5 separate regions of the Homo sapiens genome follow, and regions 1, 2, 4 and 5 are each linked to region 3. The links come from fine-mapping of genetic effects on gene expression. A gene starts in region 3. Each other region holds a variant in brackets. All regions are shown on one strand. Distances are from middle to middle.

Evidence for each region. PIP is the estimated chance that this variant, and not a neighbour inherited with it, causes the effect.
Region 1: its variant is fine-mapped to the expression of DNAAF9 in fibroblasts (GTEx, PIP above 0.99).
Region 2: its variant is fine-mapped to the expression of DNAAF9 in prefrontal cortex (GTEx, PIP 0.97).
Region 4: its variant is fine-mapped to the expression of DNAAF9 in whole blood (INTERVAL, PIP 0.95).
Region 5: its variant is fine-mapped to the expression of DNAAF9 in fibroblasts (GTEx, PIP 0.91).

The regions. Positions count from the first base shown.
Region 1 is chr20:3,252,500-3,257,601 of GRCh38, forward strand. DNAAF9 (dynein axonemal assembly factor 9) reads right to left here. Exons shown (of 37, transcript NM_001009984.3): 34 at 3,507-3,712; 35 at 2,720-2,785; 36 at 1,227-1,320; 37 at 1-185. The coding sequence ends at 73. Among named protein-coding and RNA genes, the nearest start is that of SLC4A11, 16 kb to the left of the region's middle. The variant T/G (reference allele first, on the strand shown) is at 2,477.
Region 2 is chr20:4,155,982-4,161,083 of GRCh38, forward strand. The region is part of intron 1 of SMOX (spermine oxidase); the gene reads left to right. It overlaps LOC124904861 (a long non-coding RNA gene), which reads right to left. Exons shown (of 2, transcript XR_007067504.1): 2 at 2,582-5,102. Among named protein-coding and RNA genes, the nearest start is that of SMOX, 9.7 kb to the left of the region's middle. RefSeq lists enhancers at 1-127, 1,656-2,156, 4,783-5,102 and a cis regulatory region at 43. The variant G/T (reference allele first, on the strand shown) is at 2,192.
Region 3 is chr20:3,405,627-3,410,728 of GRCh38, forward strand. It overlaps DNAAF9 (dynein axonemal assembly factor 9), which reads right to left and starts at 2,043. Exons shown (of 37, transcript NM_001009984.3): 1 at 1,849-2,043. The coding sequence starts at 1,931. RefSeq lists silencers at 1,707-1,786, 1,847-2,086, 2,127-2,376 and enhancers at 2,367-2,566, 2,943-3,444.
Region 4 is chr20:3,268,013-3,273,114 of GRCh38, forward strand. It overlaps DNAAF9 (dynein axonemal assembly factor 9), which reads right to left. Exons shown (of 37, transcript NM_001009984.3): 30 at 2,415-2,550. Among named protein-coding and RNA genes, the nearest start is that of SLC4A11, 31 kb to the left of the region's middle. The variant C/CT (reference allele first, on the strand shown) is at 2,124.
Region 5 is chr20:3,302,146-3,307,247 of GRCh38, forward strand. It overlaps DNAAF9 (dynein axonemal assembly factor 9), which reads right to left. Exons shown (of 37, transcript NM_001009984.3): 21 at 2,295-2,398. Among named protein-coding and RNA genes, the nearest start is that of SLC4A11, 66 kb to the left of the region's middle. The variant T/C (reference allele first, on the strand shown) is at 2,348.

The DNA.
Region 1 (5,102 bases), 150 kb before region 3:
GCTGAGGTTAAGACACCCGTTCGTCCATCTCCAAGGTGGACATTCTGCAGGACGTACGGGCCCAGCCTTCCTCTAGGGCTTCAGCTCAAAGAGGTCATGATACTCCTGCTGTTCCAGCTCCTGGTTATACTTCTCAATTTCCCGGTTGGCTTCTTCCACGTAGTCATTCATGAACTGGTCCATGACTGGTATCTCATTAAGGAAGAGAGCTCTGAGCCTGGAGGACAAGGGAGGCTGCCTGAGCCCAGAGCGGCCTGTAGGCAGGTGAGGGGGGTTTGCTGAGGAAGTGAGTGTCTGGCCCATAGAGAGGGAACCTGATGGACTCTTTGTATATACTGGCAGCACCACAGCTACAAAGAATGCAATGGCTGTTGTCACAGGGATGTTAATGAGGTCCTAGAACTGAGCCCTTCAGCTTCAGCCCTATCCATCTTTTCACAGGTTAACTGTTGTAATTAGGCTGTCTTCGACTTGTAAATCGTGACTCTGATGACGACAGACTTCAGGATATCACCGCAGCTGCATCCAAACTATAACTCACAGGCTGGGCGCAGTGGCTCATGCCTGCCATACTAGCAATTTGGGAGGCTGAGGTAGATGGATCACTTGAGCCCAGGAGTTTGAGACCAGCCTGGGCAACATGGCGAGACCTAGTCTCTAAGCTGGGCGCGGTGGCTCATGTCTGTAATCCCAGCACTTCAGGAGGCTGAGGTGGGAGGATCACCTGAGGTCAGGCGTTTGAGACCAGCCTGACCAACATGGAGAAACTCCGTTTCTACTAAAAATACAAAATTAGCCGGGCACGGCGGCAGGCGCCTGTAATCCCAGCTACTCGGGAGGCTGAGGCAGGAGAATCACTTGAACCTGGGAGACGGAGGTTGCAGTGAGCTGAGATTGCGCCATTGCACTCCAGCCTGGGCAGCAAGAGTGAAACTCCATCTCCAAAAAAAAATTAAAACAAGACAAAACCAAAAAACTATAACCCAGAGTCACATTAGCAATCACTCAATAAAGGAGCAATTTAACTTTAACAGCTTTAGAGACTGAAATGAAAAGTTCGCCCCTGAGGTTTGCCCCTGTGCATTCCTGACCCATCAGTGGACATGCAGAGTGCTCCTGGGGCTCAAATGCATGGCTCTGGCAGACAACCGCTTTGCAGACAGGGTCACACACTCCCAGCCTCACTGCCCGGGTTCCACACAGGGACCACGCTGTTCCAAGGATACGTGGGTGAAAATCAGTTTTGTCACCAAAGAAGTTAACAAATTGGGTGCCATTATAAAAGTAGCCTGCAGGTAGGGGTTCCAAGTGGCGTTTTACCTGTAGGAGAAAAGAGACCTGTAATAATTATCTGACTACTTTCTATACTTCACTCACTCATTAAAACAAACAAGTCTATTTCCCTAGCAAGATAGACTACTCTGCTATACAGAGGAGCTAGGAAGCTAACACCCCCGGCAAACCTCAAGCCCTGCCTGAGGTGGTTCCCCACCTCTCAGGTGAGGAGCTCTGGGAGGTCCTAGTGGGATGAAGTTCCCACGGTGTGCAGTGGTACTGATGTGCAAACACACTCTTTTATTTATTTATTTATTTTTTTGAGATAGAGTCTTGCTTTGTCACCCAGGTTGGAGTGCAGTGGCGTGATCTTGGCTCACTGCAACCTCCATCTCCTGGGTTCATGCAATTCTCCTGCCTCAGCCTCCCGAGTAGCTGGGATTACAGGCATGCGCCACCACGCCTGGCTAATTTTTGTATTTTTAGTACAGACAGGGTTTCACCATATTGATCAGGCTGGTCTTGAACTCCTGACCTCAAGTGATCCACCCACCTCAGCCTCCCAAAGTGCTGGGATTACAGGCGTGAGCCACCATGCCCGGCCACAAACACACTCTTTATTGGCTGTTTCCCCCTCTCCTCTTTCATCCTCCTGTTTCCTATTTAGTGTCTCCTAGAATCACTTCCAAAATAAACTACCTGTACTTAACTCCTTGTTCACGGTTGGCTTTCAGGGGAACATGCATTATAAGGACTACCTTATGCCCATGTTGTCCTCCCCAGGAGCACCCAGGTTGTCCGGGCCTATAGGAGCTGTTTATGAAAGGGGCCTCCTCAAATCCAAAGCAGGGGCTCCTGGAGTCCCAGAATACTTTCCTGCCCCACCTGCTCATTACTGGCATCCTGGGGACCTAGACTCTGTGTCCTTTTTAGCTTTTTGTCCCCAAACCCCTCAGGAAAAGGCCCCAGTGAGCATGGCGACTGAAGCAGAGGCTGGGGGTCAGAGCCTGGAGGCTGGGAGGCTCATCAAGGGGGTCTCTCAATCAGCCTCTTATCCTGGCCTCAGGTTCCACAGCCTTCCTATGAGCAGCCTCTGGATCCAGACAGTTTTTGCCTGGGCTCTAGCTGGTTCATCTGTAACATAGGTCTTCTGCAGTTGCTTGAACAAGGTGCCAAGGCAGGGCTTCTGGTCATCAGCTTC[T/G]CCCACAAGTACTGGCTCTACTCAATCTGATGCCCAGGTCACACCAGAGGTCTCCTGTGCCCTCCTCACTGAGGCTGCAAAGGCCAGAATTCTGTACGCAGCTTCCCTCTGTGGCCTGGGAGAAGCAAGACCTCCAGCATGTCCTACAAACAGCTCCTCACTCAGAGAATCCAAAATACAGAGCTAGGCAAGCCGAGGACAGCCCTGGGCCACCGAGGGGAGAAGCCAGGGCAAGGCACTCACGTGGATGCTCCTGATCTCCTGTTGCGTCAGCATCCCCCTGGTCTTCAGGGCTTTCCTCTGAGGCTTCTGCAGAGATGGGGAGTGGAGGGTCAGGTCCCAGCAGAACTCATGGAGTGCATGGGCAGGGGAGGGCTCTGGGCTCTATTACACAACTAAGATCTCAGCAGTGGGGAAAGCACGTGCGCTATGGCCTGGATATAATATTCTGTCTAGTCTGCTCTTTGAGAAAACCACTTTCCCATCACAGAGCCCTGTGAGCCAGCAGGGAACAAGCAGCAGAGGACAGCCCAGTGTTTTCGTAAATGGGAATGGTCGTGCCTCTTTGTAGATTCTTATCCCTCAACCCTACCAATGAGAGGCAGACAAAGGGGCAGTCTGAGGCCCCACAGTCAAGAACCGTTTAGAAGCTTATCCAAGTGAGGCAGCCCATCCCTCAGCATAAAGACAGGTCCCTAGTGAGCATCTGCAGAAGAGCCAGGCCCCAGCTAACTCTAGTCCCAGAGTTCTAGGATGAACTAAACCCCCAAGGCTGTGCTACAAGGCTTAGCACCCAAACCTTGCAGAGAACCTGGCTCACAAAGCAAACAACATAGCAGGCCTGCCTGGAGTTTGCTCTCAGTGGCTTCCTCCCTCTCTCAAAGTGTCCCTGCAAGTGCTGGCTGGGCCAGGGAGAGGAAGCCCAGTGGGGAGGCATCAGGGAGGCAGTGGCGGGGCTTCTCAGGGCCAACAGCAGCTCTGAGGTGTCTGGTCACATCTGTGTCAGGTCTGTCTGGGCTCTGGAAACCACCTGCTTAGCTGACTGCCGCAGCCAGTCCTTGATGCTGTCTTCCTTCAGGGAGCAGCCGATGAACACAAGGTAGCACTCCTGCTGCCCGCTGCTGTCTTGAGATACGCTTTTGGAGTCTGGTGGTGGTGTGGGTCCTTCCAAAACTGGCATGATGCTCAAGGAGTTGGCCAGTGTGTTGTAGCAGACCTCCATGGTCCTCTCAGAGTCTGTAAGGAGAATACACATTAGTCCCTGAGAGCCTGCCTTGAAAGGATACAGCTATGCTAAGACTGTGACAATGCAGATGGTTGGGATAGATTCATGAGAAAATGCAAGAGACAGAACTGATGTGACTGGTGGCAGCTTAGAAAGGATGGAGTAGGTGGGCACAGTGGCTCATGCTTGTGGTCCCAGCTACTCAGGAGGCTGAGGCAGGAGGAGCACTTGAGCCCAGGAATTCAAGGCTGCAGTGAGCTGAGATTGCGCCACTGTACTCCAGCCTGGGTGACAGAGGGAGATCCCATTTTGTTTTGTTTTTTAAAAAGGAAAAGAAAGGATGGAGTAAGAGAGAGAGACAGAGAGGAACAAAATAAGTTTCTGGCTTGGCTGATCTGGGTGATCAGGTGGACACTATTATCCCAGAAGGGAAACACAAGAGAAAAAAAAGGTTTATAGGTGGGAGAAGAGGAAGAGTTTGACTCTGCACTTGTGGCATTTGAAAGTCTCTAAGACCCTGAGCGTGAGACATCCACATAGTCCCTGGTGGTTGCTGGAATAGCTGTTATGGAAGAGGTGGTTGAGGAAAAGCAAAGAAACCCCCTTGGTAGAAGTGGGGGGCTCTCAGCAGAGGCCTCAGAGGCCAAGGGAGGAGGGCACAGCCAACAGTACAACAAAAAAATTAGCTGGGTGTGATGGTATGTTCCTGTAGTCCCAGTTACTTGGGAGGCTGGGGTGGGCAGTGACCTAGGATTGCACTACTGCACTCCAGCCTGGGCAACAGAGCAAGACCCTGTCTCAAAAACAAAACAAAACAGACAAAAAAACCAGTACAGCAGTGTTGCACGAAGGTCACACAGATGAGAATGGGAAAAAGTGTTACATGCTAAGGAGATGAGGGCTAGGAGTGACTGGAGACCCAAGAAGTGGGCAAGGGCTCCCTGAAAGGCAGGATGAGAAAGGATCCGGAAAAAAGCGAGGTTAAATTTGAACAAAAAAAGAGTCAATAGCAGATCTAAATAAACAAGAGGCTGGGTGTGGTGGCTAATACCTTAATTCCAGCACTTTGGGAGGCCGAGGCAGGAGGATCACTTGAGCCCGGGAATTCGAGACCAGCCTGGGCAACATAGGGAGACCTTGTCTCCACAAAAAAGAAAAAAAATCAGCCAGGCATGGTGGTTCACGCCTATAGTCCCAGCTACTTGGGAGGCTGAGGTAGGATGATCGCTTGAGCCTGGGAGGTCAAGGATGCAGTGAGCCGAGATCAAACCACTATACTCTGGATTAGGTGACAAAGTGAGACATTGTCTCAAAAAATAAAAAGAAGAAAGAAATAAAAATATTTATTTATTTATTTTATTGAGACGGAGTTTCACTCTGTCGCCCAGGCTGGAGTGCAGT
Region 2 (5,102 bases), 750 kb after region 3:
ACTTTGATCCCTGCCCCTGGGCCAGGCCGTCCTGCGGGATGGGAGGGGATAACATTTCTCAAAGACTGTTCTGCGCAATCTCAAGCGTTCAGGGGACAAATAAGGGTAGAAACTGGCAAATTCACTCCACTACCCTACGGGAGATTCAGAATACATTTAAGAGAATTAAAGGTCCTGACAAGTCCTGTAGAAAAGAAACTGTTTAGTGTTTCCCAGCCTGATCTGACCGTGGAAATCTTTTTTTTAAATGACTGCCAATAATGTCCCACCCACCAGGAAAACACCTGCTGGGAAAAGCTGATGTGGAAAGATGCTGCTCACTGGAAGGCCACGAACATGGTAGCACAGGTGGACTTCCTGGTAGAGGTAGACTTGGTGGGATGGGCACATTTGGACAATCAGTAGAAGAAGAGGGCACTGCAGAGAGAGAGATGCCAGGCTCCCCTCTGAGGCCTCAGTTTCTTCATCTGTAAATCTTTGCCCCCCATGTCTGCCTCCCCACCTTCCTTTGGGTGTAGCAACTGCTACCCCCCTGCCAGTGCCTGGTGGGACCTCAACTGACCAGGGCCCTCAGATGTGCCCATCCCACCTCTACCAGGAAGCTCCCTGCCATCCTTCCTTTTCTCCCTGGTATTTCTGGGCCGAGAGCCAGCCCTGGGTTCTTGTGGCAATGGCTCTGCCTCACTGGGTGAATGAGGAAGGATCTGGAAGGACCTGTCTGGTGCCTGGGATCCCCAGGTAGCTGGGCCTGGGTCTTCTGGATTCTTTTTCTTTTTTTTGAGATGGAGCCTCACTCTGTCACGCAGGCTGGAGTGCAGTGGCGCAATCTCAGCTCATTGCAACCTCCACCTCCTGGGTTCAAGCAATTCTCTTGCCTCAGCCTCCCGAGTAGCTGGGATTACAGGCGCTCACCACCACGCCCTGCTAATTTTTGTGTTTTTAGTAGAGGTGGGGTTTCACCGTGTTGCCCAGGCTGGTCTGGAACTCCTGGCCTCAGGTGATCTGCTCACCTTGGCCTCCCAAAGTGCTAGGATTACAGATGTGAGCCGCTGTGCCCGGCCATCTTCTGGATTCTGAGAGGGCCTTTTCCTTATACCTCCCGGGCATTTCCTCGCTTTGCAAGTTCTCCCCAGCCTTTCATCTCAGAGGTTAACACAGCAGGGTTGTGAACTCTGGACAATAAGCTAAGCCTCTCTGTGCCTCCGTTCCCTCATTTGTACCATGAGGGTAATATTACCTCCCTCCTAGGGTGGCTGGGTTGTTGTGACACTCTAATACCGGTTGGCTGCTCTTACTACTGGATTTGACATGGCTGGAGGAGGGACCCTGGGGAGGGCCCTGTCATCGTGGACATGAGGGAAGAAAGCAAGAGCCAGCAGAAAGCGGCACAAGGCTTAGGTTGGGGTCCTGGTTAGACCAGAGTAGCCTGCAGAGGAGAAGAAAGAGGGTGTGGGTAGCTAGCAGGACTGGCTTCCTGGAGGAATGGCCAGTTAGGTGGGGAGATCTGGACAGAATGAGAAGTCACAGGTTTGAGTCTGAGAGTCAGAGGATCCTGGTGGGTGTGTGTAGGGGACAAGTGGCCTGCGGGCAGGGAGGAGGCATCAGGGACTACCTTCGTTCACTGGGCTGTGGCAGCCCACAGAAGGTTTTGAGCAGGGCAGTGATGTGATCAGAGCAGTGCATTAGTGAGACATGAGGCAGGGTGTGAGTGATGGTGGGCTGTGGGAGGGGGCGGTGCTGTGCCCCTTCATGGACATGAAGCTGGGGGAGGGGCCAAGTTGCGGACGTGACCCTCATTCTCAGACTCTCAGGGCAGTCAGTGAGGCTACCCTGCCTCGCCTCTGCCACACCTCCTTTCCTCTGTGGTGTGAGGCTCTTTGTTCAGCAGCTCAGGTGGGGGAGATGGGCTGTGGTATTTTTTATTTTTTATTTTTTTTGAGTTGGAGTCTCGCTCTGTCGCCCAGGCTGGAGTGCAGCGGCGCGATCTCGGCTCACTGCAACCTCCGCCTCCCGGGTTCACGCCATTCTCCTGCCTCAGCCTCCCGAGTAGCTGGGACTACAGGCGCCCGCCACCACGCCCGGCTAATTTTTTGTATTTTTAGTAGAGATGGTGTTTCACCTTGTTAGCCAGGATGGTCTCGATCTCCTGACCTCGTGATCCGCCCGCCTTGGCCTCCCAAAGTGCTGGGAT[G/T]ACAGGTGTGAGCCACAGCGCCGGTCGGGGTGTGGTATTTTAAATACCCAGGAGGAGCTACGGTGGTGCGTGGGGCAACATTGGCCCTCCGACCTGACCCGAAGGCCCTGGTGGGGCATGCTCAGTGGATTTTCCTACCCAGCCCTAGCTCCCCTCTCTTGTCCTCCTTTGCCCCTTTGTCTTTCTTCCTCAAGCATGTAGGAGCCCAGTGCTCTCTAAATCTGGGGCTGGGAGGTTGGAGGATGAGGAAAAGCATCTGGATTCAGGTGGAGCATGGTGGCCTAGCTGGGGGCATTGCAGCACCCCTTAGTCCAGATTCCCTTCTTCTCCACCTGCTTCTTGAGGGACGGCATTAAGGAAGGTGTGACTTAAAGTCAGAAGAACAAGAACTTGGAAGTGAGTTGCAATTTATTAGAAAACAGAACAAAGAATCTAGCCACCCCTGCCAACTCTGTGCTAGGCCCTGGCAGACACATGGGTCCTGTCTTCCCCATGCAGCCCCGGGGGCCTGAGTGAGGCATGATGGGTCTCACTCAGTTTCTGGGACATCTGTCTCGATGCCCTTTCGTCAACCCCATGGCTCTCTCAGAGCCTGTCCTCATACCTTCAACTGCTCCCCACCCATAACCAGATCTCCGGGACAGCCCAGCTCAGCCAGCGCACCTCTGATCCTGGCGGGTGGTGGTGATACTCCTTGCAGGCTGAGTTGGCTAGATTTTAGGATGACTCAAGCAGGAGACACCCAGCACCACCAAGGGGCATATATTCTTAGGAAATATTTTTAAATGATGCCTTTAAATGTTAAACACACAGGGACCTTTTACTCTCTCTTATTTTGGAAAATTAAAAAAAAAAAATCATACACAATGCAAAACCTTGAGAGTTAATCTGAAAAGGTTTGGAGTTTAAAAAGTAACTCAAGGAAAGATAATGAACTTGACTTCTTCATTAGATTTTTTTTTGTTTTTGAGACAGAGTTTCACTCTTGGAGTGCAATGGCGCGATCTTGGCTCACTGCAACCTCTGCCCCCTGGGTTCAAGCGATTCTCCTGCCTTAGCCTCCCAAGTAGCTAGGATTACAGGTGCCTGCCACCACGCCCGGCTAATTTTGGTATTTTTAGTGGAGACGGGGTTTCACTATGTTGGCCAGGCTGGTCTCAAACTCCTGACTTCAAGTGATCCGCCCACTTCGACCTCCCAAAGTGCTGAGATTACAGGTGTGAGCCACTGCGCCCAGCTGCTTCTTCATTAGATTTTAAAAAGAGCAAGGCCTGAGGCTTAATATATTACTAAGTAAAATTTAGAGGCAGGCTGATAGCAGGCTGTGGAACCTCTCTGAATCTCAGTTGCCTCCTCTGTACTATGGGGGTATTGATGTGAGGATTGAGGTATTCCACACAAAATGCTTGGCACTGCACTCTGTATCTCAGGTGTATTCAGCTAAAAATAGAGTGATAACAATGATGATAGGATTTTAAGAACAGACCTTTCTTGATGCTTCAAAAGCTAGTGAGTTATTCTCTCTTTGAACTCCACAAAAGGGCCTAAAGAATATGTTTATGTCCAAACTCAGCGTCTCCACTTCATAGGGGTCTTATGGATGAAATCATGGGCGCATGGCCCCTGTGTGCATTCTGAAATGAACCCCAGTGGCTTTTGAGACCTGGTTCCAGCCCTCGCGTGGGTGGGGGACTGTGCTTCATGGTTGAATTCTATGGAAAGTGCTTTATTGGTTAATCCTGTGGTCTTCTTAGGAGAGCACAGTTAATGTACCCTGAAGTCACCAGGAGGGGAAGGTCTCGGGCCAGTGATCGAGGACCGTCTAGAGGCAGTTATGAGTTACTTGCTTTTTGAATTTTCTTTTGTGCTGGCCAATGCAATTAGAACTTGTCCCTGGCCCTATTTATGGAGGAGGAGATCGAGGGTGAAGGACTGAGGCCTGGCTAGTTTAGTGCCTGGCAAGCCTAATCCAGCTGCATGGGGCAGGGAGACCAGGGTGACCTGCAGGGACCCCACTAAGCGCCCAGGCCAGAAAGCAGGTAGCTTCCCGGTGGCAGCCCCAGGCTTTGGCAGTGAAGCTGGAGTGAACCATCAGGCCTTGAGATGACTCCTGCCAGCCCCAAGTGCCTGGCACAGTGTGTGCATATCAGTATGTGGGGAGGAGTAAGATGGGAGAATCGTTGAGCCAGGGCAGTCCTCGGGCCTGCCGCACCCCTGGGGAGGCTGAGTAGGGGGGCCTGAGGTCGGAGCAGGGATTGAGCAGTGTTGCCCTGCCCTGCCCCTCACTCCATCCAGGTGGCGTCTGTCATGCCTCTGAACCTCTTGGGGCCTGTTTCCTCATCTGTAAAATGGGCAGCAGAGAGTTTATGAGTATTAAAGGATGCAGTGAATGGAAAGTGCCCAGCAAAGGGCCTGGCACAGGAGGGGCAAAATAGAGGTTTGCTGTGAGGTTCATCTGGTGACTCGATTTTTCTTTGGATATTTTCCTTTTTTCGTTTTGTGATCATGCATGCCACCTTGGCTCTATGATAAATTACGTTGTGTGGACACCATAAGAGAGGTATTTGTGCTGGAAAAGGGTTTACAGTGGAGGAAGGCCCGTCTCCACCTTCAGGGAGGAAGGCTGCCTGGATCCAGCACGGCTCAGACAGCTCTGACACTGGGGCTGTCGTGTCTCTTTGTGGGCAGAAAGCACAGGTCCCAGGCTGGGCAGAGTGGGACCCTGTGGCTCAGGAGGCAGGATGGGCTTGCCGGAGACCCCACCCCCTCCCCGGGGCTGGAGCTGAAGCACAGTTGGGCTTTGTGCAGAGTCACGAGGGGCCGCTGAGGGGGAACTGCGCCCGGCTGAGCTCACAGGCCTCAGTTCTTGTAAGTGGTTTTGAAAGAGTCAGCGGAAAGTGCTGACTGAGCT
Region 3 (5,102 bases):
GTAAAGTGAGCCAGCATACTTCTTTGAACATAGAATCACTACCTTTAAAAGAATAAATAAAAAGCACATGGCCATGCTACTAAAAACAAGAAAGGCAGCATTTAAGAGACAGATTCTAAGGTAGAGATGATTTTTTTCCCCCTAAAGATCTCAACAGACTCAAATCCAAATTCCTAAGCTCAAGATGATCTGGGATAAACCTCAAGTCCACACAGAGCCTAGATTTAACGGATGGCTGTTCTAAAGTATCCTATGCAATGTCTATACAAGTTCAAATACTTTCTGCTTCAGACAGTGAAACTGGCAGAAATGTTGCAAAGGATTGGAGATGCGTTACTATAAGCAGTTAAACTTGGAACTGTAAAGCCCACAAGGAATTACACTGAAGGGCAGAGCAGGAGTTCAAAAATGTCACCTGACAGATTCGAAGCAATTTAGGACTCCTAAATGCAATGTTTCATTGGTATCTACCCCCCACCTTCTCTATCCTTTATTTGTTCAACAAACATATACTGGATTCTGGGTTGTGGAAAGGAATGCAGGGAAGTAAAAAAGAAACAGGTTTCTAAGAATCAGTTTCTTGTTCTCCAATAATTTGGTCTAGTTAAAGCAAACAAACAACCCCAAAAATCAGATCAGCAAGCAAAGTTAAAACATATGCCTTAAGTACCATAACAAGAATATAAGAAAACTGTTTTAACATGTAGATTGGCAACCTCCTTTCAAGGGAACAATATATTTGCTTTGCTATGTGGCTAGAATAAGAAAAAGCAAACAACAACAAAACCCTCTCCTGTTTTAATGACAGTTTAGCAGTACCAAAGCTCATCGCTCGCATTCCCCCTCTCCCTCTCCTTCTCAAAGGTCTCTGCTGCAACCCCTCCATCATTCCAACCTCCACACTGCGCCGGCGCCCCACACCAGCTCCATCACAAACAATGCCCAGACCAACAAGATCAGCACCAAACGCATAGGGCACAGAAATCGGAAACGGATCTTCCTATATCTAAAGGGGGCGGGGAACGCTCCCCACGATCACCCCCTCCCCATACTGAGGTAGCTTGGGACTGTGTCTCTACGGTAAGGGGCCTGGCGTCCGCCGCTTTCGGAGGTTCTAGGCCTCTTTCCCCTATTTATCCAGTTTTTCCTCCTGCGTCCCTAATACCTCTACTTCCTCCCAACCCGAGCTCCCTATTGTGGAGTGAGGGGGCGTCGCGATGCAGGCTGAGGCAGGGGGAGCTGGGGAAACGCGCGACAGGGGAGATGCTGTCATTATGTACGTAGGGGGCGGGGGACACTCTTTAAGGAAGCCGTTGTCAAGGGCAAAGGCTCTAGAGACCCACGGGAGGGGGCTTTCTAGGTAATCCATTTGGGGGTTCTACACGAGGGAGCTATTGTGTGTGTGGAGGTGTGAGGTCTGTAGAGTAGCAGTTTCTGAGGGAAACATTCCCTGGGGAAGGCGAGTGAGTTATTCATAGGGAAGCCTCTGTGGGGTTCTGTGTAGAAGAATCCTTCCTGGGAGAAACGTTCTATGGGGGTGAGGACGTCATAACAGTGTCTTCACAGGGAATCGCTGTCCCTAGGGAAGCCATTGTGGGGAAACCGTTGCAGGGTTGTCTGTGGGGGAGCCATTGTGGGGAAACCGTTGCGGGGTTGTCCAAAGGGGAGCCATTGTGGGGCCTCTACAGAGGGCGCCGTTCCTGGGAAAAATTCCTCCCTGAGCCGTTCAGCAAAGAACCGTCCCGAGGAAGCCATGTCGGACCACGCCCTGCGGCGGGAGGCGTCGCCGGACCCCGACAGCCCGCATCCCCCGCCCGGCCGCCCCTCGGCTGCCTCTGCCCCGCGTACCTGACGGAGGGTGACCCGCGGCTGGAGCCGCCAGGGGACCGAGCGCGGGGCAGCCCCTGCCGGCGCGGGGGGTACACGTCCATGGCGGCGGACGACTGGCGGCGGAGGAGGACGGTGCAGCTGCGAGGGTCTCAGTTGCCCGCAGGGCGGCTCCACGCTAGCTGCGGCCGGGCGGGGCGGCAGGGCGTGCCGGGTGGGAGGGGGCGCGGCGCGCGGGCCCGGCGGGGGCGGGGGCGGGGGCGTGGAGGGGGCGCGCGCACCGAGAGCGGATGGGGGCGTTGGGAGCGGCTGGAGTTGGGGGTCGGCGCACGGCCACAGGGACCCCACTTCTTAAGCTGCGAGGCCGCCGGACCGGATGTTGGGAGCGCGTGTCCGCAGGGTGAGGGTTGCCACAGCGCCGCCCGGCCTCGTCCTCAAGCCCGGCATCATAGAGCGGGGCTCTGCGCGGCGCCCCCCGGCCACGCACACGGACGCGCCCGGGGGCGGAGCCTCTCCCAGCCCGGCCCCGCCCCTCCGCCTCTGCCCGCCCCGCCCCGCCCGACCAGCCCCGGCCTCCAGCGAAGTCTTCCGCTCCGGCGTCAGGATCCAGCGCACCTCCCCAGTACCCAGCGCACCTCCCCAGTACCCGGCTCGCTTCCCTGTTCTCCGGAACGGTGTCTTCCCGCTTCCTGGTCATCAATTCCGCACCCACCCTTCAAACATCCAATAGATTCCTAGCCGGCCTCGGGTTAGCGCAGCAGTGCGCACCCAGCCCTGCGCAGGGCATGAGCGTTAGAGGCGCACAGGATCCCAGAAGACCCCTAACCTTTACTGTTAAGATCCTAGCTCTACCGGTTTCTGCAGGGACATGTACAAGAAACTTGGGAAATACTGCACTGATAGTTGCCAGGAGTCCTGTATATACAGGACGTATTTAATGATTATTGGCCTGCGTCCTTCGTTGACCTCGTCGGAATGCCTTAAATGTCCTGTATTCATCTTTTTACACTAAATTGCAATAATTAGAGCTATTTTTCTCCCACAGTAATTGGTGCTAGATCACTTAAATTACAACACTGGCTGAAAATCCTTCCTACACTAATGAAGATTTGGACAATCCCTATGGTGTCTCCTTCAGGTTTGGCTGAGGGAAGACCAGAAGGGAGTAGGAATTTAAAGTGCTCGTCTTTCATATTCAAGAAAGGAAAATACTTTTTTAGCTCAAGTCCGGAGTCGTGAACAAATAACCACCATTATTTAGAGATAACTTCTCGTCGGTGCAGCAGCTCTGAAAATCAGCCAATCAGCGATAGCCTCACTCCGGTAACTATGCTTCTTAGTAAATCAATGACAACCCCACGCTTCTGAAAGTCAGCCAATCAGTGACCGCTCTAAGCCTCCGACAATAGCCAATCAACAAGTGCCTGACACCAGCGACCAGGCTTCCGAAAGTCAGTGGGTACTCAGCTGCCGCACTCCACTTCTGATTCGGAAAGACAGCCAATCCCTGAAGGCGAATATTTCCAAAACCATTTTTTTTTCTTTCCCAGACTGAGTCTCATTCTGTCGCCCAGGCTGGAGTGCAGTGGCGCGATCTCGGCTCACTGCAACCTCTGCCTCCCGGTTCAAGCGATTCTCCTACCTCAGCCTACCGAGTAGCTGGGATTACAGGCTCCCGCCACCACGCCTGGCTCATTTTTGTATTTTTAGTAGAGACGGGTTTTGCCATGTTGGCCAGACTGGTCTCAAACTCCTGACCTCAGTTGATCCGCCTGCCTTGGCCTCCCAAAGTGCTGGGATTACAGGCCTGAGCCATCGCGCCCGGCCTTTTTTTTCTTTTTCTCCTTTTTTTTTGGAGACAGAGTCGCACTCTGTTGCTCAGGCTGGAGTGCAGTGGCGTGATCTCAGATCACTGCAACCTCTGCCTCCTGGTTCAAGCGATTCTTGTGCCTCAGCTTCCCAAGTAGCTGGGATTACAGGCCTGTGCCACCAAGCCTGGCTAATTTTTTGTATTTTTAGTAGAGACAGAGTTTCGCCATGTTGGCCAGGCTGGTCTTGAACTCCTGGCCTCAAGTGAATCGCCAGCCTTGGCCTCCCAAAGTGCTGGTATTACAGGCGTGAGCCGCGCCCGGCCTTCAAAACCTTTTATAAGATCAGCTCTGGCTTTGTTCAGAGAGGCTGTACCTTACAAGTACCGCTCTCCCTTGCAAGCAGAGAAGAAATTCACTTTTTTTTTGCATCAGATATTGAGTTCAATTTATTGTTTTGTCCGAGTTCAAAGTTCACAGCTCAAGATTCAATTCCCAGTTACTATTTGGTATGAGTTTGGACTTATGACAGACGCTATGACACCGTCATGAGATTTATCAAATACAACTCTTTCAATTCTTTCTATGCTTGCAGTGATCAATTTTTTAGCTCAAGTCCAGAGTCATGAACAAGTAACCACCATTATTTAGAGATAACTTCCCATCGGTGCAAAAGCTCTGAAAATCAGCTCTAAAAACAATTCAACGGGGCTACACGTGGTGGTGCACGCCTGCAGTCCCAGCAATTTGGGAGACTAAGACAAGTGGATTTCTTGAGCCCAAGAGTTTGAGACCAGCCTGGGCAACGTGGCAAAACCTCATCTCTCTGTCTCTCTCTCTCTATATATATATAGTTTATTTATAAAAATATATATTTATATTATAATTTATGTATACAAATATATTTCATATATGCACACACACACAAATTGGCCAGGCATAGTGGCATGTGTCTGTAGTCGCAGCTATTCAGGAGACTGAGATGGGAGGATCGCTTGAGCCTGGGAGGTCTAGGATGCAGTGAGTTAAGATCAGGCCACTGCACTCCAGCATGGGGGACTGAGTGAGACCCTGTCTCAAAAAAAAAAAAAAAAATCAATGAGTATAGGCACAGATTTGTGCAACCACCACCACAATCAATTTTAGAACATTTTTATCACTCCAACAGGAAAATCCTGTACCTATTAGCAGTCATTCCTCCATTTCTTCCCAACCACCCCAGCCCTAGGCAACCACTAACCTTTTAATTTGCCTATTCTGGACATTTCATGTTATCAGCATCATTCAATATATGGTTTTTCATGACTGGCTTCTTCCATTTAGCATAATGTTTATAAGGTTCATCCATGTTGCAGCATGTATCAGAATTTTGTTCCTTTTCATGGTTGAATATTATTACATTGAATGGATATACCACATCTTGCTTATCCATTTATCTGTTAATGAACAGTCAGATTGTTTCCACTG
Region 4 (5,102 bases), 140 kb before region 3:
ATAGGTTTACTTTTTTTTTTTTTTTTTAATTTTGAGATGGAGTTTCATTCTTGTTGCCCAGGCTGGAGTGCAATGGCATGATCTTGGCTCACTGCAACCTCCGCCTCCCAGGTTCAATCAATTCTCCTGCCTCAGCCTCCTGAGTAGCTGGGATTACAGGTGCCTGGCACCACGCCTGGCCAATTTTTTGTATTTTTAGTAGAGGCGGGGTTTCGCCATGTTGGCCAGGCTGGGCTGGTCTTGAACTCCTGACCTCAGGTGATACGCCCGCCTCGCCCTCCCAAAGTGTTGGGATTACAGGCATGAATCACTGTGCCCGGCCCCTTTTTTTTTTTGAGATGGAGTTTCTCTTTGTCGCCCACCTGGAGTGCAATGGTACGATCTTGGCTCACTGCAACCTCTGCCTCCTGGGTTTAAGCGATTCTCTTGCCTCAGTCTCCTGAGTAGCTGGGATTATAGGCATGCGCCACCATGCCCAGCTAAGTTTTGTATTTTTAGTAGAGACAGGGTTTCACCATGTTGGTAGGGCTGGTCTCGAACTCCTGACTTCGTGATCTGCCTGCCTTGGCCTCCCAAAGTGCTGGGATTACAGGCGTGAGCCACTGCACCCAGCCTAGATTCGCTTTTTTTGGTTTGTATTTAATTTAGTTTTTTCCCTCCTTTATTTAATTTTTGAATACATAAAATATCTACATAGTTCAAAAGTCAAAACTACATTAAAAAGGTATATAACCTTTTATCTGAATTGAGCAAACAAAACAGCTATATAACCAGGTGTTTTCTCCTCGTATATGTGTGTACACAAACAAAATCACTAATTCTCTATTTTTAGTTTGTAATTTGAACCCAAGTCCATGAAGTAAAGAGATAATATCTCTATGTTACTTTTTTTTTTTTTTTTTTTTTTTTGAGACAGAGGCTCTGTTGCCCAGGCTGGCTGGAGTGCAGTGGTGCGGTCTTGGCTCACTGCAAGCTCTGCCTCCCAGGTTCACGCCGTTCTCCTCCCTCAGCCTCCCAAGTAGCTGGGGCTACAGGTGCCTGCCACCACACCTGGCTAATTTCTGTATTTTTTTAAATATAGAGGCGGGGTTCCACCGTGTTAACAAGGATGGTCTCAATCTCCTGACCTTGTGATCCGCCTGCCTTGGCCTCCCAAAGTGTTGGGATTACAGGCGTGAGCCACTGCACCCGGCCACTTTTTTTTTTTTTTTTTAATAGACAAAGTCTCACTACTTCGCTCAGGCTGGAGTGCAATGGTGTGATCATGGCTCAGTATAACCCTAAACTCCTGGGCTCAGGCAATCCTCCTGCCCAGCCTCCTGAGTAGCTGAGACTACAGACATGCACAACCATGCTGGCTGTTTTTTTAAAAAACTGTTTTGGTAGAGACAGAGTGTCACTATTTTACCCAGGCTGGTCTTGAACTCCTGCAAGGAGTTTTGGGCTCCCTAAGTGCTGGGATTACAGGTTGAGCCATCACATCCGACCCTTCTCTACGTTCTCTATGCCATTTCTTTCACACTTTAATACAAGGATGTTAAGAGAATCTTGGCTACCATCCTTCAATGGATGAGAATGTGAATGGATCAAAACAAAATGCCTCAAAATGGTACACGATGGGGTCTTCTTGGTGATTTTTACAGAGCATCTAAAGCACTTCGGCCAGGCGTGGTGCCTCACGCCTGTAATCCCAGCACTTTGGGAGGCCGAGGCAGGCGGAACACAAGGTCAGGAGATTGAGACCATCCTGGCTAACATGGTGAAACCCCGTCTCTACTAAAAATACAAAAACAAAATTAGCCGGGCGTGGTGGCGGGCGCCTGTAGTCCCAGCTACTCAGGAGGCTGAGGCAGGAGAATGGCGTGAACCTGGGAGGCGGAGCTTGCAGTGAGCCGAGATCGCGCCACTGCACTCCAGCCTGGACGACAGAGGGAGACTCCGTCTCAAAAAAAAAAAAAACACTTCAAAAACTGTTTTTTTTCTTTTTCCAATATATTTTTTCTTTTTCGAGATGGAGTATCACTATATTGTCCAGGCTGGTCTCAAACTCCTGACTCAAGATCCTCCCACCTCAGCCACCCAAAATGCTGAGATTACAGGCACGAGCCATTGTGCCCAGCCTG[C/CT]TTTTTTTTTTTTTTTTTTTAAAGAGATGGGGTCTTGCTCTGTCTCTCAGGCTGTGGAATGCACTGACACAATCATTGCTCACTGCAGCCTCCAATTCCTGGATTCAAGTGATCCTCCCTTCTCAGCCTCCCGAGTAGCTGGGACTATAGGTGCGTGCCACCGCACCTGGCTCAAAAACTGACTTCTCCAAATGTTTAGGTCTTAGATACAGTAGAAAGACTCTGTGGGCCACAGACAGAGTGCTGTATCTGAGAAAGCAACTGGTCTTGCAGAGTGAATCTATAGATTACCTGGTGACAATCCCATTTTCTGCAAGAATGAAGGCTGCAGCAGGATTGGCAGCCCTGATGAGGCTCTGCAGCTGAACAAGGAGAGGGTGCCGCTGCTCCGTGGTGTGACTGGTGAATACCACGTTACTCACCAGGCCTGGGAATAAAACCAAGGACAGTTTAGCCTTCACAGTCCTGGTTAGGGGTGAAGGCTCACACAAACGTGAGCCCTTGCTCCATCCCCTAATCATGCCTTCCAGTAGTCTCCTGATGGAGACAACCCTTACACCCCAATACCAACATAAACAGCTATCATTCTCTTCCCACTTCCCGGCACTGCCACCTCTTGGAATGAATAGCTTCAAGTCTGTAGCTGCCTTACTACCTAACCCCTAACTTCCTCTATCTTTTTTTTTTTTTTTTTTAAGACGGTGTCTCACTCTGTTGCCCAGGCTGGAGTGCAGTGGTGCGATCTCAGCTTACTGCAACCTCAGCCTCCAGGGTTCAAGCAATTCTCCTGCCTCAGCCTCTTGAGTAGCAGGAATTACAGGAACCCGCAACCATGCCTGGCTAATTTTTGTATTTTTAGTAGAGACGGGGTTTCACCATGTTGGCTAGGCTGGTCTTGAACTCCTGACCTCAGGTGATCAGCCCACCTCAGCCTCCCAAAGTGCTGGGATTACAGACATGAGCCATTGCACCCGGCCTCCTCTATTATTTTAATTCTGGTATCTAGCTGATACTTGGAATTCTTAGTCAAAGGGCCTTTTCACACATCCTGTATTTAGCATCATCAGGAACTGGTGCCATTTACCTTCACCAGTTCAGAACAACACAATTATCAAAAACTCACCATATAACAGGGGTTATTCATTATATCCTCAAAGAGTGCACTGCCAAGATACTGTGCACAGGGAGCCACATGATTCCAAGATAAATGCTAACAGATTTTAGTCACGTGGTAAGAAAGGGTGGCCCATGTAAGAAGAGGTTGCAGGGTGGGCCATGATCACTCCCAACCTTTTGGTGAAAATACAGAAGTAAAATTCACAGGACCACAGAGAATTTGGAGATCAGGAAACTTACCACACTTCACCACCCCAAGATAATTATAATACCCCTTCCATATTCATTCCTATTTTAACAGTTATAATCATAGCGCATATATAAGATTATTCATTTTGCATTTTTGTTATTCAATAATTTTTATTTACTTCTTCTTTTTTTTTTTTTGAGACGGAGTTTCACTCTTGTTGTCCAGGTTGGAGTGCAATGTTGCAATCTCAGCTCACTACAGTCTCCACCTCCCATGTTCAAGTAATTCTCCTGCCTCAGCCTCCTAAGTAGCTGGGATTACTGGTGCGCGCCACCATGCCCAGCTTATTTTGTATTTTTAGTAGAGATGGGGTTTCTCCATGTTGGTCAGGCTGGTCTCGAACTCCCGACCTCGTGATCTGCCTGCCTCGGCCTCCCAAAGTGCTGGGATTACAGGTGTGAGCCACCGCACCCAGCTGTACTTCTTAATATCGTAGAAAATTTCAAACATACACAACTAGAAAAATAGTAGAATGAACTCCCATCACCTGGTTTCAGGAACTACCAACACTCAGCTAATCGTATTTCATCTACACTCCACCCAGCTCATCCCCGGCTCCCCTACTGTATGATTTTGAAGTCAATCCCAGATACCCAATTATTTCAAACAAAAATACTTCAACGTGAATTTCCATAATATAAGGACTCTAAACATATTAACAATGAACTCCTTAATATAAAAAAATCCAGTCTGTGTTCAAATTTCTCTGTCTTATAAATGTTTTCTCAGTTAATAATTTTTGAATCAGGAACCAAAGGAAGTCTACATATTATATATATTTATATATTCAGTGGCTCACTGAAGCATTGACCTCCTGGGCTCAAGCAATCCTCCTGCCTCAGCCTCCTGTGTAGCTGGGACCACAGGTGTGCGTGCCACCATGCTTGGCTAATTTTTTTATTTTTTTTAGACACTGGGTCTCATTTTGTTGCCCAGACTGGTCTCAAACTCCTGGGCTCAAGTGATCCTCATGCCTTGGCCTCCTCTAAAGTGCTGGGATTACGGGCGTGAGCCACGGCACCCAGCTTCATTAGGATTTTCAGTTCCTCTAGTGGTCACTTTTATATCTTTAAAGAGTATACTTAACCCTTTATAACTTGATTTAATAGCTTTAAACTTTATCAATCTCCCATTCTGAAAGATGTAAAGAGTATCTCTCCTCTGCCAATTTTTTGTAAAATATAATTTCATAGATAGGCTTTCAACATTTATATTCTATTTTGTAATAGAATTCTCACAGGTGTTATAATTCTATACTTAAAAAAGATTCAATGCTCATCATCAACCCATTTACTAATAGAGAGTAGTTTAATTATTTTTTTATTATTATTATTTCTTGAGATGGAGTTTCGCTCTTGTTGCCCTGGCTGGAGTGCAATGGTGCAATCTCAGCTCACCACAACCTCCGCCTCCTGGGTTCAAGTGATTCCCCTGCCTCAGACTCCCGGCCTCCCGAGTAGCTGGGATTACAGGCATGCACCATCATGCCGGGCTAATTTTATATTTTTTAGCAGAGATGGAGTTTCTCCATGTTGGTCAGGCTGGTCTCGAACTCCTGACCTCAGGTGATCCACCCGCCTCGGCCTCCCAAAGTGCCGTGATTACAGACGTGA
Region 5 (5,102 bases), 100 kb before region 3:
CCAGGCTGGTCTTGAACTCCTGACCTCAGGTGATCCACCTGCTCCAGTCTCCCAAGGTGCTGGGATTACAGGCATGAGCCACTGTGCCTAGCCATAAAAAAATTTTTTTATTTTTAATTAATACATAATATGCACATATTTATGGGGTATAATATATTGTTTCAATACATGTATACATTATGTAATGATTACATCAGGGTAATGAATGAGAAATCCATCAACTCAAACATTTATCATTCAGAATCTTCTCTTCTAGCTATTGTGAGATCTGAACACCTTATTGTTGACTGCAGGCACCCTACTGTGCAACAGAACACTAGAATTTACTCATCCTTTCTAACTTTGTATTCATCGATCTACCCCTCCCCATCCCCTAAAATACTTTTTAAAGGGTTTTTGCATTACTAATTAGTCTGACAAATTTTATGATATACCCATACAATGGAATACTACTTAGCAATAAAGAGAACACAGCTATTTACATACACAACATGGATGAATCTAAAAATCACTATGTTGAGTGGAAAATGTCAGACTCAAAGGTTACAGAATAGATGATGTTCATTTATATAACATTCTAGAAAATGCAAACTAATATATAGGGACAAAAGCTAATCAGTGGTTGTCTGAACCCAGGAGTGGAGGGAAAGATGAAAAAGGGCATGAGAAAACATTTTGGTTTGATAGTAAAGGTGGTTTCATGAATGTACACATCTGCCAAACCTTTAAATGGATACAGTTAGTTGTATTTACAGTATACTTTAATAAGTTAAATTATCAGCATAAAATTTTTAAAAATCAGTAACTGGTCAGCTGGGTGTGGTGGCTCATGCCTGTAATCCCAGCACTTTGGGAGGCCGAGGTGAGTGGATCACGAGGTCAGGAGATCGAGACTGTCCTGGCTAACATAGTGAAACCCCGTCTCTACTAAAAATACAAAAACAAAATTAGCCGGGCGTGGTGGCAGGCGCCTGTAGTCTCAGCTACTCAGGAGGCTGACGCGGGAGAATGGCGTGAACCAGGGAGGCAGAGCTTGCAGTGAGTCGAGATCGCACCACTGCACTCCAGCCTGGGCAACAGAGCGAGACTCTGTCTCAAAAAAAAAAAAAAAATCAGTAACTGGTCAAATTTGACAAACTTTTCCTTTAGAATTTCTTGTATTGTTTCTAAGCTTCAGAAGTCTTCTAACCCCTAGAGGTTTAATAAATATTCATTTTTATATTCTATTTGTGAAATTTAAATATATTTAATTTTAATCCCTCAGAAGTTCATTTTGATTTTTAGTAGAGGTAAGAGTCTATTTTTTGTCGAAATTAGCTACTTATCATCCCAGTACTGTGCTTTTCATGATGCATTCTTTCTTCCCTGATATTGGAAGACTCTTTAATCTAACAGCAACACTTTAATCTAATAGGGCCATCCAATGTGTCCAATTGGTCTGCCTACATTTCTGAACAGCCTTTAAGGCTGCAGGCTCTATATGGAAGAAAAACTTGCTCACAGAATTCGTTTTCTGAGCCATCTGACCAAAATACCTCACATAGTCTCTGTCCTAGCTCCCAGACAGACTGGTTTTGAGGCTGAGACCAGGCAGAGTGGTGGGCCTGCCCTCTGCTCTGGTGTTGCACTGAGACGAGCTGTGCCTTGGCCACAGGGTAAAGGCTAGGGGAAACCCATAGCTACCATCTTCCCCTTAAGGTGAATGGGAAGTGTTGGTGCAGACTGGTGAACTTAGAGGATTGTTATAGGACAGTGGAACTTTTATGGAGCTGGAGAGGAAGTCTGGGTGTGTGAGGGAGGAGGGGCTAAACTCTCACGGGGAAAGTGAGCCATTTCTCTCCCTCTCTGGCTCACTTACAATCCTGTCCATGCTAATGTGTATGCTGAGCCTCATCAATACCACAGGATGCAGCTCCTTTCTGATTTTTCAGTGGGTGAGCCTTGAGCCCCTGGACCTGGAGGCCACCCAAGAGGGGCCACTGGAGGCCTTCTCAGCCTGCTTTATAGTCCTCTTTAGGGTGAATGAATTGGGCATGGGGAGCTGCTGGCCCTTCTGACCAGAAGCCCTTTCTAGGTAAGCCCTTTACAGAGCAGTGAGGTTGATGAGGCTCGTAAGCGTCTTGAGAATGCCCAGGCCTCTCCACGACCTCCCTCCCTGCCTGCCTCAGTGGCTGTGCTGGTTCCTGACATACTGCCCTGTGGTAGTGGAGGGGAGAAAGGAGTTATTTAGTTTTCCCCTCAAAAGTGTGAGCAACTTTCCGACCAAAAAAGCCACTGACTAGTAAAACACCTACCCCATCATAGAAGGAAATGGAATTCATGTGATCCTTGGAAATGATGATACTTC[T/C]ATGACGACAGTGAGAAAACAGAAGGCCACTAGAGAAGAAATGAACATTCCCTGGAAGGAAAAGAGAGTTGGTCAGAGCTGGAGGGCTGGGTGCTGGGGGTCAGATTCCAATGTCCTCTTGTACAGCAGTGTGGTAACTAGAGGCCAGTATCAGTAGCAATTACGTTATGCGATTTGTATGCTGAGCCCTGTGCTCTGAGGAAGCCAAAGTAACCTCCCAAAGCCTCAGAGGGAAATGAGGCATCAGATGCAGTCTTTGCATAAGAATTAGAAAAACAAGTGAATAAACTATCAGCTAATGGGGAGAAGCAAAATTCACATTACCTTATGGGTATCTTCCACGGAAACACACTAAAAAAGACTTTGGGTATATCTGCTCCATTACTGAGTTTACAGATTTTCCTTTCTTCTGCTTTGCCAGAAGCTGGCTCGGCCCTAAAGAGACCACATCCCTCACTTAGGGCCCGAGAAGGAGCACTTGGGTCTCAGCTGAAGACTGGTGAAGGGAGCTTAAGGTCCCTGTGCCCAGCAACAGAACATTTGAGTTAGGTAATGAGTAAGTTCTACAGACACTGGGGGGCTGCTCTTCTGTAGTTCACAAAAGCAAGATGGGTGACAGGTGGACATGGATGTGGGTTCCTCGGAACAAGGATTCAGGTCTAAGGAGAGCTGTTGTTTCCTGGATGGTCAAGGTCATATGGAGCAGCTCAGTATAGGCCCTAGGGAGCAGACCATGGAAAAGATGGACAACTAAGATGACAAAGATTAATGCTGGGCCTGGGCTTGCTTTGGAGACACAAAAGCAGCACCCAAAGCACCCATAAGACTCCTAGGTGAAGCTGCTCTCTGGGGCTGGTCCAAGCTGAATCTTCTATTCCTGTAACAGCTTTTCTTTCCATGTTTCCGCATATAGAGGGAGATGAAGTAGTTCTTAAAGCTCAAGGCACAGGTTTGAGTTTATTGTCATTAAGACCTCACTGCCAAGGCAAAGGCCAAGAGATAAATAAGTGAAATTGATTCCTTAAGTTGTAGCTCCAGAAAAGCAGTGCAAAGCTCTGGAGGCTGGAATGACAAGAATAGCAAAGGCCAGGAGTCTGAGGGCTGCCTTCACATCCTGGGTGAGGAATCTGGAGACTGCAAGCTTTGAGGGCTTCCTGAGGAGGTGAGGTTTCAGAAGGAAGGGAGGGGCCTAGTTAGTATGTGTTCACAGGGGACAGGAGAAGTGAAGGGAGAAGGAGGCAGTTTTTAGGTACAAGAAGAAGAACTGGCACCTGCCTCTCATGGAAGAACCAGATGCCCCGTCAGAGGGACATGCCAACCTTACCATCTGTGGCAGCCACAGCCAGCGACTATCTAGGTTCAAGCTCTGGAAACCTCTACCCTCCAACAAGTAGCCTGGCTTTCTGTGCACACTGCCTTTTCCTGAGGCCCTCTGAAAAGGAGGCTAATCATGCCCCAGCCTCATCCTGTACCAACCCTAAAGTTCCTCCATGCTGCTCCCAGGCCAGTCTCCCCAACACCACAGCATGTTACTTTCATTCCCCTAGAGACACAAGCCCCTCCCTCTACTGCTCACACCTACTGCCCTCCTGACCATGCCATATTTCAAATCACTCTGAATGTGCTCAGTCTTCCCTTCCAATGCCAACACTCCCATTCCTTCTTAGAGCAGTAAAGCTGCACCCAGAATGTCATGACTTCTGAAATCTCCAGCCCAGCAACTACTCTCTGACTCCAGCACCCCATCCCCCTTTTAGCTGTTTCCCTCCCCACACCCCATCCTCTGATGTCACTGAGCCTTCACAGTCATTGGTATTCGCATTTTCCCCTATTGCTCAGAAATTTCTGATATTCTTCTCATCCACATCAAGGGCAGATCCTCTGGGACAGGACTTAACCTTTAATCTTTGTTCTGTTAAAAGAAAGGAATGGGAACAGGTTTCACGCAGTATTTACTAAGCACCACACATGTCATACATTATAGTTTTCTGTTTTCACAATTGTAACAGGTGGTATTATTTTTTCTCATAGGACAGATGAGAAAACTCAAGCTTAGAGAGATTTCCCCCAAAATCACAGCATTACTTGGTGGTGGAGCCAGGTACAGAACACAGGTTTGTCTGATGCCAAAGACACTATACCATGCTGGTGCCTTCAGTTCTCTCATGTTTTTTTTCTTTCAATTCTCCCCTGTCCAAAGCCCAGCTGTGGTGAATCTGTAGATGTGCCTTCTCTGCTCCCTCAACCACAACAGGCCACAGTGCTGCCCCGTAGCCTGTTCACTGCTGTCTCCCCACTCCTTCCATCAGCCCACAGAGCTCATCCCAGACCTTCAACACTCTCCTAAAACCACAACCCCACCAACTCCTGCCACAAGATGACTCTACTTACTGTTTCCAGAGATAAGAGGGCTCCATAGGTGTCACGAGGTAGAAACTGCTCCTGCTGCTGAGTGGTTAGTACCTGCACCCTTCCCTGTCCTGGGTATCCCTCTACATTTGTACTTTTGAAGTGAACCTTTTTAGAAACAAGTCCAGTGCCACTTGAAAGGCCTCCTGGACAAAGCTCAAAATCCTGAAGCTTCCAGAAAAAAGCACAGATTGGAGAAGCTGGCACATTCCATTTACTCAATAGGAAGATGGGAAAGGATGAGCGAGGTCATCTCCAGCATTTCCTCTCCCACTAGACTCTGAAGCCTCAAAACAAAATGGAAAAGAGGAAGACAAATTCACAAGACAGTGCTGGAAGAGCTCAT